Homo sapiens: one gene and its partners. The protein of the gene in region 2 interacts with the protein of the main gene of each other region in a pairwise test. Each region holds a gene or a part of one and is shown on either strand. Other genes may lie near its edges.

Evidence for each region.
Region 1: the proteins of FFAR3 (region 2) and YIPF1 interact in binary tests that used the Homo sapiens proteins (3 or more experiments, as listed by UniProt).
Region 3: the proteins of FFAR3 (region 2) and SERINC1 interact in binary tests that used the Homo sapiens proteins (3 or more experiments, as listed by UniProt).

The regions. Positions count from the first base shown.
Region 1 is NC_000001.11:53,886,798-53,893,622, reverse strand, and holds the start of YIPF1 (protein YIPF1), read left to right. Parts: upstream 1-3,825; 5' UTR 3,826-3,910; intron 3,911-4,159; 5' UTR 4,160-4,379; intron 4,380-4,636; 5' UTR 4,637-4,685; coding exon 4,686-4,716; intron 4,717-6,825.
Region 2 is NC_000019.10:35,354,515-35,361,067, reverse strand, and holds FFAR3 (free fatty acid receptor 3), read right to left. Parts: upstream 2,543-6,553; 5' UTR 2,419-2,542; intron 2,189-2,418; coding exon of another isoform or gene 2,178-2,188; coding exon 1,137-2,177; 3' UTR 579-1,136; downstream 1-578. UniProt on the Homo sapiens protein: G protein-coupled receptor that is activated by a major product of dietary fiber digestion, the short chain fatty acids (SCFAs), and that plays a role in the regulation of whole-body energy homeostasis and in intestinal immunity.
Region 3 is NC_000006.12:122,461,808-122,468,807, forward strand, and holds part of SERINC1 (serine incorporator 1), read right to left. Parts: intron 1-7,000.

The DNA of each region.
Region 1 (6,825 bases), on a different chromosome or scaffold from region 2:
GGGATTACAGGCGCCTGCCACCACGCCTGGCTAATTTTTGTATTTTTAGTAGAGACAGGGTTTCACCGTGTTGGTCAGGCTGGTCTTGAACTCCTGACCTCAGATGACCTACCCGCCTTGGCCTCCAAAAGTGCTGGGATTACAGGCTCGAGCCACCGCACCCGGCCCCCAATCATGGCTTCTAGCTGGTGGTTGACTATTTCTGTAGTCAGAGCCCTCCCCAGGGGATATGGATCTCAAACCTCCCAGGGCAGAGACAGAAATGGGACCATTTCTAACAAAACCTGGGGCCTGCAACTCCCCTTAGCACTGGGCATAGAGTGACAAATAAAACACCCTCTTCTCTCAAGGAAGTCATGGTCTAGTGCGGGGAATAGACAAGTAAACAAAAAACTACCATTTCCTAAATGAAGTCCAGAGGCGGAGGGTGTGCGTGGGCTACGAGAGCAGGGAGAAGGGGAAGCTAATTCTGGTTAGAGAAGTCAAGAGGACTTCACTGAGGAAGTGATTTCTATGCTGAAACCAGAAAGACGGCAAGCAGTCAGCTGGCTAAAGTGGGGATAGTGTCCTGGTGGAAGGAACCACATGGCCAAAGGCCCAGAAGCCAGAGACAGCATGGCTCATTGGAGAAACTGAAAGAAGAATCATAGAGCTCAGAGTTGGGAAGTGTTTTAAAATACACCCAAGACCTTTTTTTTTTTAAATAATTGAGACGGGGTTTCCTTCCTCTGTCACCAGGCTGGAGGGCAGTGGTGTGATCATAGCTCACTGCAGCCTCAAACTCCTGGCTCAAGCCATCCTCTCACCTCAGCCAGAGTAGTTAGGACTACAGGAGTGCCACCCAAACCCGGCAAATTTTGTGACTGTTATAGCTTCTCCTTATGTTGCCCAGGCTGGTCTTGAACTCTTGACCTCAAACAATCCTCCTTCCTTGATCTCTCAAAATGCTGGGATTATGGGAATGAGCCACCATGCCCAGCCCCCAACTTCTTAAAGTAATCAGGGCTGATTTTCCCCACCATGTGTCACTCTTTATTTATTTATTTTTGAGACAGAGCCTCGCTCTGTTGTCCAGGCTGGAGTGTAGTGGCACAATCTCGGCTCACTGCAACCTCCGCCTCCCAGGTTCAAGCAATTCTCCTGCCTCAGCCTCCCAAGTAGCTGGGATTACAGGCGTGTGCCACCATGCCCAGCTAATTTTTGTGTTTTCAGTAGAGATGGGTTTCGCCATGTTGGCCAGGTTGGTCTCGAATTCCTGACCTCAGGTGATCCGCCCACCTTGGCCTCCGAAAGTGCTGGGATTACAGGCGTGAGACACCGCGCCCAGCCGGCACTCTTTTCTTTACCTGCTGGTGCAGTGGTATGAGAAGCCAAAAATGCCTAAGTGGTAGTTACAGCTTCCAATTCAGTGGAACTGTAACTGGAATGGAAGTGTTCTCTCTCCGCCTTCCCTGCTTCCCTGGGACCAGGATCTCCAACCAAGCAGAACTTAAACTTGTGACGCAGGAGGCACACATTCTATGTGTGTAGGTTTCACTGAAAGTGATAGTAAGAAGTGCTACCCCTTGGTTTGCAAATCTATAGGTATTTAGAACAAAGTACCATTATAAATAATTGATAAACCATTGGTTTAGTACATGTACTACATGCCGGAGGACAATGCCCCAGTCTCCTGAGTATTTTCCCCAACCTGGAGCCCTAACTGTGCCTTTAACAAGCCATTCCACCATCCTATTAGGCCACCTACTATTGGATGACTGAGTCACATGGTAAGACCAGTGGGTAAGACCCATGGTTATGTGTCACTGTTGCATGTTCTTTACAATTAAATTGGTCCCTTAGTCCAAAGCAATGTTGTGCAGGTAATCATTGCAGGATCCGTAAGCAAGAGGACTTTGCTTTCCTTTAACAAGGGGGAAAGGACTACTTCTGCCACAGCCACCTTTCCCTTGAAAGATTCAAGGGAAACTGGAAACGAGGGATGGTCAAGTCTCAGGCTTTCCTACCCAAATATCCTCATCCCAGTTCTCAGGTTCCCATTCATTTTCTGACAATGCCCCAGCTTTGATGGAGGAGACCTACAGAGGCTGTGCATTCAGTCTTCGTTGAAACTTTGCCACCCTTACAATTAGATCTTGGGCCTGATTTTCAGTCCAGTCTTTCTCAAGGCTATAGAAGAATAAGAATCTTCAAAGCTGCCATAGAGGCTCTCTAGCTTTCACAAAGTGCCTCAAGTTGACAGTTGGCTGTTCTAAGTCTGTCATTTTATTTTCAAGGTTTCCAATGGAGTTAAGAACACCCAGTCCATTCCATAGTCCTTATAATTACCATTGTCCTCTTAATGTTCCTGTGCCACAGCCACTAGATAACTCAGCACCTTATCTTCTACCTGCACGTTATCCCAATCAACTGCAGACAGACACCTTAGTAATTGTGATGCCATTCTATTCTAAGTGTTATCACACCACCACCACCCCCCTCCTTCTCTCTCCCCTTAACACCAGCAATATATTTGTTGTTGCCATGTGACTGGTGCGCAGTTCAGTTAGAAAATGCCAACCTAAGGTTTTATTTTCTGGGGCCACTTTTGGTACCAACATGCCTTCATATTGCTTCCTCATATGAGTAGTTTATTGGCAAGTATGAATCCAAGCACCAGGAGTGAAGTACAGGGCTTGTATATCAGGGAAGGAAGGAGACCCATTGCGAAGATGCATTGTCAAATGCGTCACTTCCAAAGGCATTTGGTTGCTTAATCCTGCTAGGTAGTTTGAAAGCTATATGAAAGGGCGCCTGAGGGGGAAAAACAGGAAAAGCATATATTCATCAAGTGTTGACCCCATTGGTCAGAGATTTGCCTCATGAGACATTAACAACTCTCTACCCCTACACTTCTGGGATGCACCTGTCTGGGTGCTGATTGGCTCCAGCAAGGTCCCATGGCCCCATCGCATGAAGAAACAAGCCTCGAAGCAGAAAGTGAGAAGCCTGAGGCATAGACTGGAGGCAAGCTCACTCAGGTTATATCTGCTGACGCTGGAATAAGATGAGTGGCGGTGAAATAAGCAGCAGGTGAGGCCAAGATGATCTGAAATGGGACATAAGAGGTGGCTGATATACTAGCACAGCTGAATTCATGAACTGAGATTCATTCCTGGTACATACTCAACCAAAAGTGCCCTGCACATGCTCTAAGCCTCAGCTTTCTCTTTGTAAAATGAGGATAATCACCCCAAGATAGCAGGATTGTTCTGAGAATTAGAGATCCTGCATGTACAAAGCCTGATCATGATCATCTTGGGGAAAAAAATACACTATATATGGCTATTATTAGATGTAAAGTCTTTCCAAGCGCTCACTTACTGGGGGTGCTCATACGAACAGACATCGCGCTTTCGATCACTCATTCAGAATGTAATTGACTCATCATGTACTTTCTCACCAGTGAAATTTTTGTGGCCAAAAGAAACTGAGGGACTGGTGACGCGGGTGACTTAATTTTTTCTTTCACAATCGTCTTTCATCACCCGATTTTATATTTCCTTAGGAAAAGAGGTATAAACACACAGTAAGAAAACCCTAAACTCGAGAATTTTCTACGTTCCCTGGAGCAAGGCCAGCCCAAGTAGTCACACTCAGCGACCCCACCACTCCGCCCTCGCCTGTCTCTTTAAGAACTCGAGGCTCAGCCTCGGGAGAAGGGCGGGCGGGAGCGGGCTCTGCGCGCCGCAGCACGCAGGTTTCTCTGGGAGCTGCTGTCTCTTTAAGGAGGCGGGGCTCTTCCCGGAGGAGGCGGAGAGGTTCCGCCCCCCGGATCTCCGGCTTCCGGCAACTGGGCTGGACCGAAACCGGCGCGGAGCAACTGAGGCCCGAGCCTTCTCGGGACCCGGGGGACGCCTAACCCCGCGAGGTGAGGCTGCCGAGTTTGCGGGACCTGTACGAGGCTAAGGGGGTTCAGGATCTCCTGCCCGCCCGGGCCGCCGCGGCCCAGCTCCTCTCCCTGAAACACTGCCTCTGCTTCGCGGTGTCCCGGGCTGCAGGGTCGCCGACACCCCATTGCCTACTAATTGCCTGACTCCGCTCTAGGCTCCTTACACGCACTCCCATTTAATGACCCCCGCACTGTGTGACTAGGTATCGTTATGCACCCATTTTACAGATGAGGAAACTGAGGCCGCGAGGAGCGCGCATACAGCAGAGAAGCAGCAGAATCGGGAATCAAACCCAGCTCTGTCTGACCCCAGAGCCTGTGCCTTTAACCACTGGCTAGGCTGAACTGCCTTTGTTCTTCACTGTCCCCATCACCTCTTTCAAACCTCAGCCTCTCCTTCCTCATCGTTACATCTCTAGGCTGCACCTGCTCTCTAAACATTCACACAGTGAGTTGAGATTCATTCCTGGTACATACACAACCAAATAAGGTTGAATTGGAACCTTTGGATCCCCGGGGTTAGTTTCTTTGTTACAGTTTTAATATTTAATAATACCTGATGCTTAGTGGTTATCTTTATATAAACCTATTAAACCCCACTGAAAAGGGAGGCAAGGGAAAGTGATACCATTTCTAATACATAAGAGTTGTTTGCAGATACTTTATACTGTCATCCTATTATGTTTACCTATTTTTTTCTTTTAGAACCCTGCAAATTTTCTTCCTCATAATTGGGAGAAGACTCACTGGCCGAATGGCAGCAGTAGATGACTTGCAATTTGAAGGTATACCAGTTGGGTGCCCACCTTTATATTTATGATCACTGTTGCTACAGTCACAGCAAGTATTTTCATTCCTATACTGCCTCACACATTGAAGGATATTATTTCAAACATCTTGGTGGCTGTTGGCCACATCCAGGTGTTTCCTGTTTGTCCACACCAGCTGTTTTTGTTTTTGTTTTTTTTGCCAGATAACCCTTCAGATTGGTAACGAGTATCATAAATTTAGTACAGTGATTACAGAAAATGCTTACACAGTTCCTGCTTTAGTTCAGAAAACATTTATTGAGCACTTACTTTGTGCTTAGAACCGTACAAGATACTGGAGACAAAAAGATGAAGAAGTTTATCCACTGGTGGAGTAGATAAAAATGTAAAAAGATCATTAGGATGAAATGTGATCAGATCATTCCCTCATTGAATCAGTAAATATCTCCTGGTTGTGACCAGGAACCGGGCAATTGTTCTAGTTATCAGGGATAGAAGAGTGAACAAAATAGTTTCCTTGTGAAGCTCTCAGTCTAGTGAGGGGGACATGTATTTATTAAATGATCATTTAAATATATACCTACAAACTATGAAAGTGCTGGAGGAAAAGTTCAAGGAGATATTAGGACTCATAACCCAGAGCCTGACTTAGGCTAGGGATTGATGAACACTTGTTTGTTTGTTTGTTTGTTTCTTTTGATGGAGTCTCACTCTGTTGCCCAGGCTGGAGTGCCTTGGCTCGATCTTGGCTTGCTGCAACCTCTGCCTCCCGGGTTCAGACGATTCTCCTGCCTCAGCCTTCTGAGTAGCTGGAACTACAGGTGCCCGTCACCACACCCGACTAATTTTTGTATTTTTAGTAGAGACGGGGCTTCACCATATTGGCCAGGCTGGTCTCGAACTTCTGACCTTGTGATCCACCCATCTTGGCCTTCCAAAGTGCTGGGATTACAGGCATGAACCACCAGGCCTGGCCCACTTACTTGTTTTATTAACACCTTACCTAACATTTACTATATGTCAGGCACTGTTCTAAATCCTGTACAGATAATCCTTATGTCAACTTTATGAAATAGTTACTTTATTCCCCTGTTTTATTAATGAGGAGACTGAGGCACAGAAAAATAATTTGCCTAATGGTCACGCAGTTAGTAAGGGATAAAATCAGGATTTGAACCCATCCAGTCTGGTATCACAGCTTATGCTGTCTCTGTTATCTAAGGAAGAGATACACTGTTTAAAGATAAATCTATTTCATTTGCAAGTACTAGAAATCCACCTCAATTTGCAAATACTGTCAACCTCGTCTTCAAAATTCATCTAGCATCTGACCACCTCCACCACTACTCTCACCATGCTCAAGGTCACTGTCACCTTTTTTCTGAATTATAGCCTTTACCTTCCTTCTGGTCTTTCTGCTTCCTCCCTTATCCCTCTACAGTCTGTACTTTGCAGCCAGAGTAGTCCTTCTAAAACTCAAGCAGATCATGTCATTCTTTCAGAACCTTCCAGTAGCTCCCATCTCACTAGAAGAAAAAGCCAGGCTGGGCGCAGTGGCTCACACCTGTAATCCCAGCACTTTGGGAGGCCGAGGAGGGCAGATCACCTGAGGTCAGGAGTTCGAGACCAGTCTGGCCAACATGGTGAAACCCTGTCTCCACTAAAAATACAAAAATTAGCTGGGCATGGTGGTGCACGCCTGTAATCCCAGCTACTCTGGAGGCTGAGGCAGGAGAATTGCTCAAACCCAGAGGTTGCAGTGAACCGAGATCGCACCACTGTGCTCCAGCCTGGGCGACAGAGCGAGACTCCATCTCAAACATAAACAAACAAACACAAAAACGAAAAAGCCAGAGCCCTTACTGTGGCTTAGGAGGCCCCTATATGATGCAGCCTCCAACCCTCTGATTTCATCTGCTGCTCTCGTCCTTTCTGTCTCTGCCCAAGCTGCATGGGCTGTCACGGTTCTTCCTATGCACCAAGTACATTCACAGCTTGGGATGTTTGTGCCATCTTTCTGTGTGGGACATTCTCCCTTCAGATAGCCTTATGGCTTGCTTCTTTGCTCTGTTCAAATCTCTCCTCATTAGAGAGACCCTCCTCAGCCATCCTATCTAGGAGTGC
Region 2 (6,553 bases):
TAATTATCTTTTTTTCTTTTTTTCCAAGAGGGCTTTTTTACTGGGAAAAGGTTGAACCCACACAAATAGTCAATACGCTTTGCATTTAGTTCTGTTTCTTATCATGGCCTGTTTATATTTGTCCTGCTCAGACAGACTTATCTGACTTGGGACATTTGACTGGGCCAGGTGACCACAGGTGACACACAGATGGAGAACAGCAGAGTGGCTTAGGGGCATGGGTGTCAGAGTCAACTGACACCAGCTTCTGGTCCCACTTCAATCGCCCACCAGCTATGGGATCTCAGGTAGGAGGTGTCACCTCTCTGGGCCACTCCTTCATCTGAAACTGGGGATAATGCTGGTACCTCTCACAGGGCTATTGAGAGATAGAAGGAGATGATGTGTCAGGCCAAGTCCTTTAGACAGGGCAGCTGTTATTTTCATCCCTGCAAGCCAGATCCTCTCCCAGCATCCAGGCATCCTGGTGTTTGGCCCTTTTCCTCCAGAGTCTGGTGTTTTCTCCTTCCATCCACCAGTCCCACCCGGCCCAAGCACACCACCAGAACAAAACAGGAGAAGAAGGAAACACTGTTCTCTTTTGCTTGCTTCCACATTTATTTGGGTAATTTTTCTTCTGTCATTGTTCATAAATGTCTCTGATGATCCACATTTATTGAGCAATGGGAACTTTCTGGAAAAGGCGCTGTGGGAGCAGAATGCGGCCTCATCCCTGGAGCCCTGTCTCCCCCGCTCCTGACTCGCTGGCTGGGAGCAGCTCTGAGGATGGGGTTCTCCCCTCTCCTGCCCCTGCCACTCACTGGGCAGCCCCCTCAGACCCTGGGCACTGCTCTTAGCTCCTCTGCCACCCTCAAGAAAACACAGGAGCTGCCTGCTGCTATGAGGACCTCATTGTTCTCCAGAGCAGCCTCTCACCCTGACCCCTTCCCAGAGCCCAATCCATAGTGTGTGGGTGGATGGGGATGGAGGTGAGATCGAGAGCTGGGCTTTAGCGCGCATACCCTTAGGGAGGCTAGATGTCTACTCTGCCCCCAAGCCCCATCGGGCCCCAGCTCGCCACTCCAAGTCCCTCCTGGCGTGAGCGAGGAAGCGCCCTGAGGATGACATGCCAGCTACACCCTCCTCCCCCGGAGGACCTAGCTTTCAGCACAGGCCACCTGGCCACCAGTTCCACAGCCCTGTGAGTGTTCACTGGTCTTTCTTTCAGCTGGTCGGTCCGCTCTCTGCTCCTCCCCTCCCTTCTGCTCCTTCAGCTCCATGCTGCTCTCCTGCTGCCACTGGCCCCAGAGCCCACACAACCTCCTCAGCAGCTCATGAAAGTCGGCTTGGAACCCGGAGGAGGAGAAGTAGTAGACAAAGGGGTCGACACAGGAGTTCAGGGTGCTGAGAAGCGTCACGTAGATCCTCCACGCCGGGCTTTCACCGCAGATATAGCCCACGACATGGGACACGTTGTAGGGCCCAAAGCAGACAAGGAAGTTGAGCAGCGTGGCCGCCAACAGCCCCGCCACCCTCCTCTGCCGGCGGTGGCTGCCCCCTCTGCCGAGGATCCACACCAGGCGGCTGTAGCAGTAGCTGGTGATGATCAGCGGGACCACAAAGAGGACCACAGCCATCTCCAGCCGCACGGGCAGGAGGATGGCTAGCTGGTCCTTCCGGAACTCCAGGTAGCAGGTCCCATTGGTGCCCTGGCTGTGGGAGATGTCCCCTGAGAATTCTATGACGTAGACCACGCTGCAGTGAGCAGAGGCCAACAGCCAGCAGGCCACACTCACCAGACCTGCCTGCCCCAGCCTCGGCCGGGTCTTGTACCACAGTGGGTGGGCCACACTCAGGAAGCGTTCAATGCTCACAGCTGCCAGGAAGAGGGCGGTGAGATAGATGGTGGTGAAGAAGATGAATCCAGAGAGTGGGCAGAGGATGAAGGGCAGGGGCCAGTGCATGCCATTGGCTGCCTCCACCATGCGGAAAGGCAGGAACAGCAGCAGGAGCAGGTCCGAGGCGGTCAGGTTGAGCAGGAGCACGTCCACGGCCACCGGGCGGCGCTGCAGCTTGCCCACGAAGACCACCAGGGCCAGCAGGTTGAGGGGGAGCCCCACCAGGAAAGTGAGAAGGTACACCGAGAAGACGAACCAGTGATTGCCGGAGAAGTAGGACTGGTCGGGGCCTGTATCCATGGTGGTGGCCACTGGTGAGAGAGAGTAACATGGAGTTGGTAGTGGGGGCCCTAACGGCCTCTGGCCAGCAGCATCTCCCCTAAAAGGGCACGAGGTCACTACGCCCACCCCTCTTGTCTCTGGGTGCCTTCCAGGCGGGGTCAGCCTGCCTGTCTTCCTGAGCATGCCCTGTCCCCTGTCCCTTCCCCAGCAGAGAAGCACCAAGGTGCTCCTCCACCCAGCCCCTCGGGCCCAGGCTCACCTGCTTCTTTGAGACCCCAAATGCTCTGCCGCACAGCACCTTGCTGTCTCTCCAGACCTAGTGCAGTTGGCTATTTATCCGGCAGAACTGATAAAGACCTGGCCGTGCCCATGACGTCACTCACTGTTGAGCAGTGGCACATAGATGCCTTGAGCTCCGTTGCCAGGGCTGGTCAGCATGCTAAAAGGGGAACAAATTCCACAACTGCGTGCCTCCCTCCTCATGCAGTCTCAGCTGGGATGCTCTAAGCAGGCCCCAGCCGACGTCTTCCTCTCCCCTTCTTCACTTGAATTTTGTCTGCTTCTCTAGAATGGCATTTATCCAATTTGCCTTGTAAGGGCAGGAAGTGTGATGCAATGACAGAGAGCGAGCTCCGTGAGGTCTGTTTCTTCCTGACTTTGTGATTTGGGGGAAATGACTTAAATTCTCCATGTTTCTGCTTTCTCCCCTGCAGAACAGAGCTCATCATAATACCCATCTCATAGATCAACGCATTAACACATGCAAATTAAAACAATATGTAGGTCGATTAAAAGATTACTAATACATGTTGAGTGGTTTGACGGAAGCCTGGCGTGTGGTCGTGAGCAGGCAGCGGATGCCAGCTGCTATTTTCCCTGTCACTGGTGCAGGATTATCTCTGGGGTGACAATGTAATAATAATAACAATAATAATGGTGGTGGCGATGATGACAGCAGCTGCCTTTTCATGGGCACATAATCCATAGCAGACACTGCTTCTAGGGCAACGCTTTTATGTCATAAAATCCTTGTCCTTCACCGTAGGGAAGTGACTTGCTCCAGGTGATACAGCTTGTGAAATGTCACCACTAGGGTTCAAACCCAAGTGCTGTCCAGTTTCACAGGTGATCTATTAGTTCATTCAAACAATCACAGGGCACAATGAGATATGATTTCACATCCACTAGAATGGCCACAAGCAAAAAGTCAGACAATGCCTATGGTCGGCGAGAATGTAGAGAGATAGGGGCCTCATTCACTGCTGGTGAGAATAATGGGAGGTGGTGTCCCTGCTTTGGAAAGCAGGTGGCAGTTGCTTAAAAAGTTAAACATAAATTCACCATGCGATCCAACAATTCCACCGTAGGTATTTACTTAAGAGAAGTGGAAACTCAGGTCTACTTAAAGACTCAGTCCTAAATGTTCACAGCAGTGTTGGTCATAGTCACCAACAGTGGAAATGTTACCTGGCAGCCCATCAGCTGGTGAGTGAATAAAAAAGTGGCACATCCATATACTGGAATTCTATTTGGCAAAGAAAAGGAATGAGCTACCCATACACACTACAGCCTTATGTTGAGTGAAACAAGCCAGACGTAAAAGACCATGTACATATATTGTCAGATTTCATTTATTTATATGATATGTCCAGAATAGGCAAAGTTATAGAGTCAGAAAGTAGACTCGTGGTTGTCTGGGGGATGGAGGTAGAAATGAAGATTAAGTTGTTTTTTTTTTTTTTTTTTTTTTTTTGAGACAGGGTCTTGTTGTCGCCCAGGCTGGAGTGCAATGGTGCAATCTTGGCTCACTGCAAACTCTGCCTCCCGGGTTCAAGAAATTCTCATGCCTCAGCTTCCTAAGTAGCTAGGATTACAGGTGCCCGCCACCACGCCTGGCTAATTTTTGTATGTTTAGTAGAGATGAGGTTTCGCCATGTTGGCCAGGCTGGTCTCGAACTACTGACCTCAGGTGATCCGTCCACCCCAGCCTCCCAAAATGCTGAGATTATAGGCGTGAGCCACCCCGCCTGGCCCAAGATTAAGTTTAAATGAACATGAAGTAAAATCCTTTACTAGGGTCATGAAAATGTTCTAAAACTAGCTGATGGTAATGGACTCACACCTCAGTAAATTTACTAAAAATCATTGAATTGTACACTTAACATTGGTGAATTTGATGATATGTACATAATATCTCAATTAAGCTGTTAAAAGTGCAGCAGTAGGCTGGGTACGGTGGCTCAGGTCCGTAATTTTAGCACTTTGGCAGGCTGAGGTGGGAGGATTGCTTGAGCACAGGTTGTTTGAGACTAGCCTGGGCAACATGAGGAGACCCTATGTCCACAGGGGAAAAAAAAAAAAAAAAGAGAGAAAGAAAAAAGAAATTAGCTGGGTTTAGTGGCATGTGCCTCTGGTCCCAGCTACTTGGGAAGCTGAAATGGAAGAATCGCTTGAGCCCAGGAATTCAAGGCTGCAGTGAGCCATGACTGTGTCACTGCACTCCATCCTGAGCAACAGAGTGAGACTGTGTCTAAAAAAAAAAAAAAAAAAAAAAAACAACACGCAGTTGTGAACAAAAAGTTTTTGCTGTCATGCTGTTTACATTACATTTGGTGGTGAGGGCTTGGGGGATGGAGTAGGGGAAGGATCATGAAGACGTGGATACTGAAGAGGCAAAGAGCCACTGGAGGGAACATTGGGGCAGGGGAGTCACGGGTGCACAGACTTGGCCTGCTGGGGGAGCTGATAGGAGGTTTGGGTCTCACAGGAGTGAGAGGCGCCTGGGGTGGATCACACTGAGTCTCCTGGGCCCCAGGGAGGCACTGGATTTGCCCTAAGTGGGGGGAGGCAGGAGGAACTGGGAGAAGCAGCCCAGTACCCAGCAGGGGCTATGGAGCAGGAGTCAAAGAGAGTGGGCCCTGGCACCCTGTGATGCGGGAGGAGGCACTGGGGCTCCCTGGGGTGGAGTTTGGGTTTTTACTGAAATTCCCTGGTGTTGTCACTGCACAAGTGCCGGGCTTGTTTCTGGCTTCCAAAAGAAGTTACTTAATTTCTCTGGCCTGTTTCCATATTGATAAAACAGACATAGAACTTTCTTTGGAAGGCTAGTAGAGGCATTCATTCATTCATTGAGCGAACATTTACTGAGCACCTACTGCGTGCCACTCTGTCTTCTGGGCGCTGGGGATATATCATCAATTACAAGAAAAATCCTTGCATGCGTAGACATTTCAGCCTGAACAGAGCTCATTTGTAGAAATTGGTGCGTGCACCCCAGCTGGTGGCTGCCATTTGTTGTGCTCCAATACATCATCATGTGCATGGCATTGCTGTAATTTAGAGCAGGTGCCCAGGTGTCTGTCTCCTTCACAGCCACAGCCACTCCCTTCTGACCTCCCTCTCATGGATGTGGGATGCTATCCTTTGCGAAATGGACCACAAATACAGGGTTAACCCCCACACCCCCAGGTTTCCCAAATGTCCCCTGGCTCTTGGGGGTTCTGCTTGGAAGGATCACATCCTGCTTTTACCCCTTCCTTGCTGTAGGGCCTTAGGCAAGTTTCTTCATCCCATTCCAGGATCGTAGCTACCTGGTGCAGCACCTTTGTGCAAATTAGGTGCTCCCTTTCCAGAGGAGCCCATCCCGCACCAAGTGCTGCCTAAGGAGTGGCTGGTGTATTTCTTCAAATTAGAACACAATACTCCTTCCCTTGATGCAAGCAAGGCAGGCATGTGGCTTGTTGAGCAAAGCACAGGCTAGAATTTAGTCAGTGTTTGCTCCTCTGCCCAGTACCTTCGTGTAGTGAACACCCGCTCATCCGTACGGCAGTGGCAAGGCTAAACCACAGCGTTGTGTGAAGCTGAAGTGAGACAACACTCACTGTAGACACTCAGCGTGACACCCATCACGTATTACAGACTATATAGTTGACCTTTGAATAGCACAGGTTTGAACTGTGCAGGTCCACTTACTTGTGGATTTTTTTCAATAAATACATTGGAAACATTTTCAGAGATTTGCAACAATTTGAAAAAACTTACAGAGGAACTACAAGCCTAGAAATATATTTTTAAAATTAAGCAAAAGTTAAGTATGCCACGAATACAAAAAATATATGTAGGTACTAGTCTATTTACTGCCACTAGTCTATTTACTGCCATACATACTAGTCTATGTATGCCAAAATGGATACAAAGCTTTTTTTTTTTTTTTTTTTGAGACAGGATCTGGCTCTATTACCCAGGCTGGAGTGCAATGACATGATCTCGGCTCACTGCAACCTCTGCGTCCCAGGCTGAAACCATCCTTCCACCTCAGCCTCCCAAGTACCTGGGACTACAGGCACACGCCACCATGCCCAGCTAAATTTTTTGTATTTTTGGTAAAGACAGGG
Region 3 (7,000 bases), on a different chromosome or scaffold from region 2:
AATTATACCAGAGAGAAATTTGGATTTGCATACAAAGGAATATGAAAGAGACATATTCTTCTTATTTAAAAAAATGGGCCAGAATTACAGAGACTAAATCCAAAGACATCATAAGAAAATAATAGACCGATATCCCTCATAAACATACACAAAAAAATTCTTAATGATATTTTAGCAAGTCAAAAACAGCAATATGAAAGTATATAAAAAGGATAATATATTGCCACCAGGTAGAGTTTAGCCTGGAAAAGCAAGGCTGGTTCCACTTTTAAAAATCAACCAATGACCTCTACTGTATAAACAGACTAAAGAAAAAAAACAAGGTCATCTCAATAGATACAGAAAAACCATTTGACAAAATTCAATACCTATTCATGATATAAACTGTCAGCAAAGAATAGAAGATAACATCCTTAACTTGATAAATGGCATTTACAAATACCTATAGCTCTCACCCATAATTAATGACGAAAGTCTGAATGCTTTCCCTGTAAGACATCAAACAAGGCAAAATACCTCTCTCACCATTTGAATTCAACTTCACACTGGAGGTCCCAGCCAATATAATGAGGCAAGAAAGAAAATAAAACATAAAAATTGGAATGGAAGACACGAAACTGCCCTCTTCACATATAACACAACTGTCTATATAGAAAATCCCAAAGAGGGCCATACACCATGGCTCACACCTGTAATCCCAGCAATTTGGGAAGCTGAGGCAGGAGGACCATTTGAGCCTAGGAGTTCAAGGAGTTCAATGATAGCGCCACTGCACTCGAGTCTGGATGACAACAAAACAAAACAAATAAAAACAATAAAAATACCCCACAAAGAACCTACAAAAATGCAACTAGAACTAACTCATCGGTTTAATAAGGTCACATGATAAAAAGTCAATATACACAATCATGTTTCTACGTATTAGTAATAACTGAAAACAAAAAGAAAATAGTTATAAATCTAACAAAACATAGACAAGATCTCAAATAATGAAAACTACAAAACATTGGTGAAAGAAATCAAAGACCTAAATGAATGGCAAAATATACAGAGTTCATAGTTGGAAGACAATTATTTTCAAGATATCAGGTCTTTCCAAACTTATCTATAGATTCAGCCCAATTCCAATCACAATCCCAACATCAGATTTACAGAAATAAACTAGCTGAACAGGCAAAAAACACCAGAATAGCTCAAACAAGTCTGAAAAAAGAACAAAGTTAAAAGACACACTACCTGATTTCAAGACTAGCATTAAAGTGACAGTAATTAAAACAGAGTGATATAGGGAAAAGGGTGGACACACTAAGTAGAACACAATAAAGTTCAGAAATAGATTCATGCAAATATAATCAAAGGATTTTTGACAAAGATACCAAAGCAATTCACTATGGAAAGGATAATCTTTTTAACAGATGTTGCTGAAATAATTGGATATTCATACATTTTTTAGAAAGTTAACCTTAAGCCATAATCAAACCATATATGAGAATTAAGATTTCCTAGATACCATATAAAAAACAGGACTCACAAAAGAAAAACAAATGAATTGGGCTTCATCAAAATTAAGAACTTTTGCTCTTTGAAACACACTGCTGAGAATGAAAAAGCAAGCCATAAACTTGAAAATACTTGCAAGTGAGGTACATGATAAATCATCGGCATCCAGAATATAAAAAGAACTCTAAAAACTCAGTGATAAGAAAACAAACAACTCAATTAAAAATGGGCAAAATATTTAAACAGATACTTTAATAAAAGGCATATAGACAGCAAATAAGCAAAGAAAAAGTGCTCAATATCATTATTAGGGAAATGTACATTAAAATCAGAGATACTACTGCATGCATATTAGAACGGCTAAAATGAAATAAACTGATGATACCAACTACTGACAAGAATGCAGAGCAACTAGAACTCTCTTACTTTGGTGGCGGGAATGAAAAATGGTACAACCATTTTGGAAACCAGTTTGACTGTTTCTTATTTTTAAATCAAACATGCACTTACTGTATGAATAAGCAAATCCACACTCAGATATTTATTCAAGTGAAATAAGAACTTATAATTACACAAAAAAACCTTGATGGGAATGCTTATAGCTACTTTATTTGTAATCATCAAAACCTAGAAAGGCTCCTCAAATGGTGAATGGATAAATTGTGGTACATCCAAACAAAAACAATATTCAACAATAAAAACATACGGAGAATGAAACTCATTATGTGCTAAGTAAAAGAAGCCAGACTCAAAGACTATATATTGTAGGATTCCATTAATATGACACTCTAGAAAGGCAAAATCCTAAAGACAGAAAATAGGGGTTGCCAAGGACAGGACAGTGCAATTTTTTAGGATGATCGATGTTCCAAAACGGTTACACGACTAGAGATGCATTTGTCAAAACTCATGGAACTGTATATTACAAAGAGTAAATTCTACTGTATGTAAATTATACCTTAACTAAAAAAAGTCCTTAAAATAGAGAATCCTCTAAATAAATGAATTAAAGGATATTCACAGATCTAATATAAGAAAAATTCCTTAGATGGAAAAATAATCTGTGCATCAAAAGAGCACACTACTTTTTGAGAAGGGGAAAAAAAGTGATAAAAGATTTAAACTCAGACTTATCTGGTTATTTAATTTCTAAGATAAACAAAAACTCTTCAGCTACTCAGGCAGAGGAAACAAACCACCTATGCACGTGCAGAGGGACGGTGTGGAAACCAGGCTGATATAAGACAGAATACGAAAGAGAAATAACTACAAAGTTCTGAAGGAAATTCGTATACTATATTATACCAGTCCAAAATGTCTCTCAAGAATTTAGCAGGCACTTTCAAAAACCAAAGAACTTAGAGATTCCGGCACCAATAAATCCTTTTTGAAAAATCTACTGATGACAAAATGTGGTCAATTAGGAGATGACATTAAAATAAAAAATTAGAGCAAAGCAATGGTAAGCCAAGGACTGGTAGAGAGCTTTGCATCCACTTAAGTTTAGAGCACTGGTTCTCAAACTGTAACAACTACCAGAATTACCTGGAGGGCTTATTAAAACATAGAATGCCCCCAGTCAATGTTTCTAGGGTATAAGATAATGGCAACATAAAAATAATAGTACAAAGTGCTTCTAGTTAAAGATGGCAGACTGAATATATTAATTTACCTATGTTCACTCTAGAAATCCCAATAAAATAAAAAATAAAGGTTTGGGGTTTTTTTTCTTTAAAAAAGAAAGAATAAAATGTAAAAGTCAAAAAGAACTAGATCTTTTGTTCTAGTTCTTTTGTTTTGTTCTTCCCAGAACAAATCTAGGAAGTAGAAACTACGAAGTAGTAACAACCTTAACAGAGAAAGCTGAATTCTAAGTTATCAAAGGAAAAAGTTAACGAGCAACACAATTCATTTGGCAGAATCCCCAAATAGTTCAGGAACTGGTGGCACCAGGAGTCTCTGTAAGTGACACTAAAGGTATAGTAAAAATAGATGATTGGTTGAATGTCTTTCCAAAGAGCAGTTAAGACTCCCAGATTTCATTCCATTTCTTGCACTAGTCACCTGAAAGAATAAAACATGAGGTTTGACAGGGAAACACCAAGTAGAGTTGACAGAAGGGGTTCCATACTAAAAACATAAAATTAAGTCAAATTTTATGTACTGAATGTGAAGAACCTCATCATTCTTTCCGTCACTTGCCTTCCAGAATGCAGGTATATTCCCCAGGTTGGAGACTGGAAGTGTACCCTGGATCTATCAATAGCCCTAGATAAATATCTGCATTAGGCTTCCACAATAAACTGGTTGAGCCAGATCACTTCACGGTAGTCACAGCTGACAAGTCCTACACCAAGCTCTTGAGTGTCCCACTCCTAAATATGAACAAATAGCTACTGACCACTGAATACTCCGGAAAACACTAAGATCAATGAAAGTGGGAGGAGTGGATAGGAGAAACTTGAAAAGAAATTATAGGCAGACATAAAAGCATAAAAAATTTGGTATTTTTAATATACTTACAGAGTATATTAATAAACTATATAGTACAGGGTATATCATAAAGATAAAAATAAAGATTTTTTTAAAAAGGGAGAAAGCTTGCTTCCATGAAACAACCACAGGATGCTATAAAAATGGAACAGAGGCCAGGAACGGTGGCTCACACCTGTAATCCCAGCACTTTGGGAGGCTGAGGCTGGCAGATCACTTGAGGTCAGGAGTTCAAGACCAGCCTGGCCAACATGGTGAAACAGTCTCTACTAAAAATACAAAAATTACCCAGGGATGGTGTTGTGCACCTATAGTCCCAGCTACTCAGAAGGCTGAGGCATTTGAACTTGGGAGGCGGAATTGCTCGAACTTGGGAGGCGGAAGTTTCAGTGAGCCGAGATCACGCCACTACGCTCCATCCCGGGCAACAAAGCAAGACTAGGTGAAACAGAGAACAAAACAGACTCTTGGTAATTAAAAATGTTACAGCAGAGGTTTTTGTTGTTGTTTGTTTTTTGAGACAGAGTCTCACTCTGTCGTCCAGGCTGGAATGTAGGCTTTACTAGAGTGCAGTGGCATGATTACAGCTCACTGAAGCCACAACCTCCCTGGGTTTAGGTGATCCCCCCACCTCAGCCTCTACAGAAGCTGAGATCACAGATACGCTGGGTGTAGCTGGGACCATAAGCACGCACCACCACGCCTGGCTAATTTTTTTGTATTTTTTGTATAGACAGTGTTTTGCCATGTTGCCAAGGCCTGAGCTCAAGTGATCTGCCTACCTTGGCCTCCCAAAGTGCTAAGATTATAGGTGTGAGCACACTGCCCCTATAGCAGAGGTTTAAAAATTCAACAGAAGTCCAATCAGTCAATAAAAAAATTTAAAAAATAAAATTCAACGGAAGTTCTGAAAACAATCAAGGAAATTTCTCAGAAAGCCGTGCAAAAAGCCAATGAGATGGAAAGCAGAAAGGAAGAAACCTAGAGTTTCAGTCCAGGAAGCATAATATGTGAATAACAGAAAGACAATGTAGAAAATACAGGTGAGAAAATTAAAGAATTCAAGAAATGTAATTAACTGGTGGAGAAGTGAAGGATGGAAAGGTCATACAGAAAAAGTTTCTAAAATGACTTCAGAATACCCAGCAGCAAGACTACAAGTCTACAAAGGAGCATCAAAATTCTGAGGGAAAATGACTTCCAATCTAGACTTCTATGACCAAAGTGTACCTCCTATGTGGTTCTGTCAAGGAGCATTATACCAAAACATGGTCGTCAACCAAATGAATACAAGCAATGAAGAAAAAAAGGGTTTCAACCTAAGAGAGAGGAAATGTACATCCTCATTAGAGGATAAAGTGAGATCCAGGATGAAAACAGTTGACTATAGACTAGAGCAGGTCAGAAGATTCTGGGAGAGATAACCTCCAAGGTTCGATCAATCATGACATGTATCTGAACTTAGAGATGCATACAGCTGGGGAAAAGTCTGAGGTTAAATAATTTAAATACACTGAAAATAGGCTGGGTGCGGTGGCTCACACCTATAATCCCAGCACTTCGGGAGGCCAAGGCAGGTGGATCACTTGAGGCTAGGAGTTCTGAGACCAGCCTGGCCAACATGACAAAACACCATCTCTACTAAAAATATAAAAATTAGCTGGGTGTGGTGGCACATGCCTGTAATCCCAGCTACTCAGGAGGCTGAGGCAAGCGAATCACTTGAACCCGGAAGGTTCAAAGTCGCAGTGAGCTGAGATCGCGCCACTGCACTCCAGCCTGGGCAATGCAGTGAGATTCTGTCAAAAAAAGAAAAGAAAGCAAACCAATGAACAAAAAATGTTGTGCATGAAAGGAAAAGTCATTGCATATTTAGTACAAGGCTGACCTATGAAGAGCATTACACAAATAAAGAACTAACATGTAAGTGCTTGCTACAGCTTTACATATATAAACTTATTTAAATAGTCACAATAATGTTCATTTACCAAAATTATTTAGTATTATGGAAAGCTATGGGGACATCAATGTGTGTGTGTGATTTTGGTGGGGGTAGGGATGAGGGCCAGTTGAAATCAAGGGATGACTGCTAAATCTTCGTCTTCCATAGTTAGAAGACAATGTCTAAAACAAATAAACAAAATCAAGAATACACTATATGTATGTTAATTAGAAATACGGCAATAAATACCAAAAGAAATACTGTCTCCAAAGGGAGGAAATGGGAGTGGTATACTATTTTTCTTAAGCGCATAGAGAAGTATGTACATACAGAATTATGAATTAAAAAATTTAAAAATGATACAATTAATTAAACCTGGGAACTAGGGGAATGGGTGAATATTGATTTGTTCCACCTTTCAGAGAAGTGAATCTAAAATTAAAATGTCCTTAAAAAGTTACTCCAACTTCAATGTCTTATACAATGTTTTTCTTAAACTTAAACCAGACTTTCTTAACCATGTTGTTATTGCTATTTTGGGCTGAATAATTATTTGTTGTTGGGGGCTATCCTATACATTGTAGATTTAGCAGCATCCTTGTCCTCTACCAACTAACTAGATGCTAGTGGCACGCCTCACCCCAGGTTGTGACAATGAAAAATGTCTGCAGATATTGCCAAATGCCCACTGGGGAGCAAAACTGTGTCCAGTTGAAAATCACTGCTATGGAAACACCTCCTTAGAAGAATCTTTTTAAGAAACTCTCCTGACAAATGTTAACATTTAAGAATTACTTTTTTTTTTGTTAAATTCAAGAAACATTAAATTCAATGCTTTGCTTAAAAATATGTTTAAGATGCTGCCATTCCTAAGAATATATTTTTGTCTATTCATCCACCCATGTGTATACAAATACACAATGCACCCATGCATTGAGAGAGAAGGAAGATTTTGGGGGGACATTTTTATTTAATTTCTACTCTGCATTGCTTGACCATTCATAGCAACTATAAATCATTTCTATAAAACAAGTCACTGTATTAACAAAAATTTAGGAGGTTGGC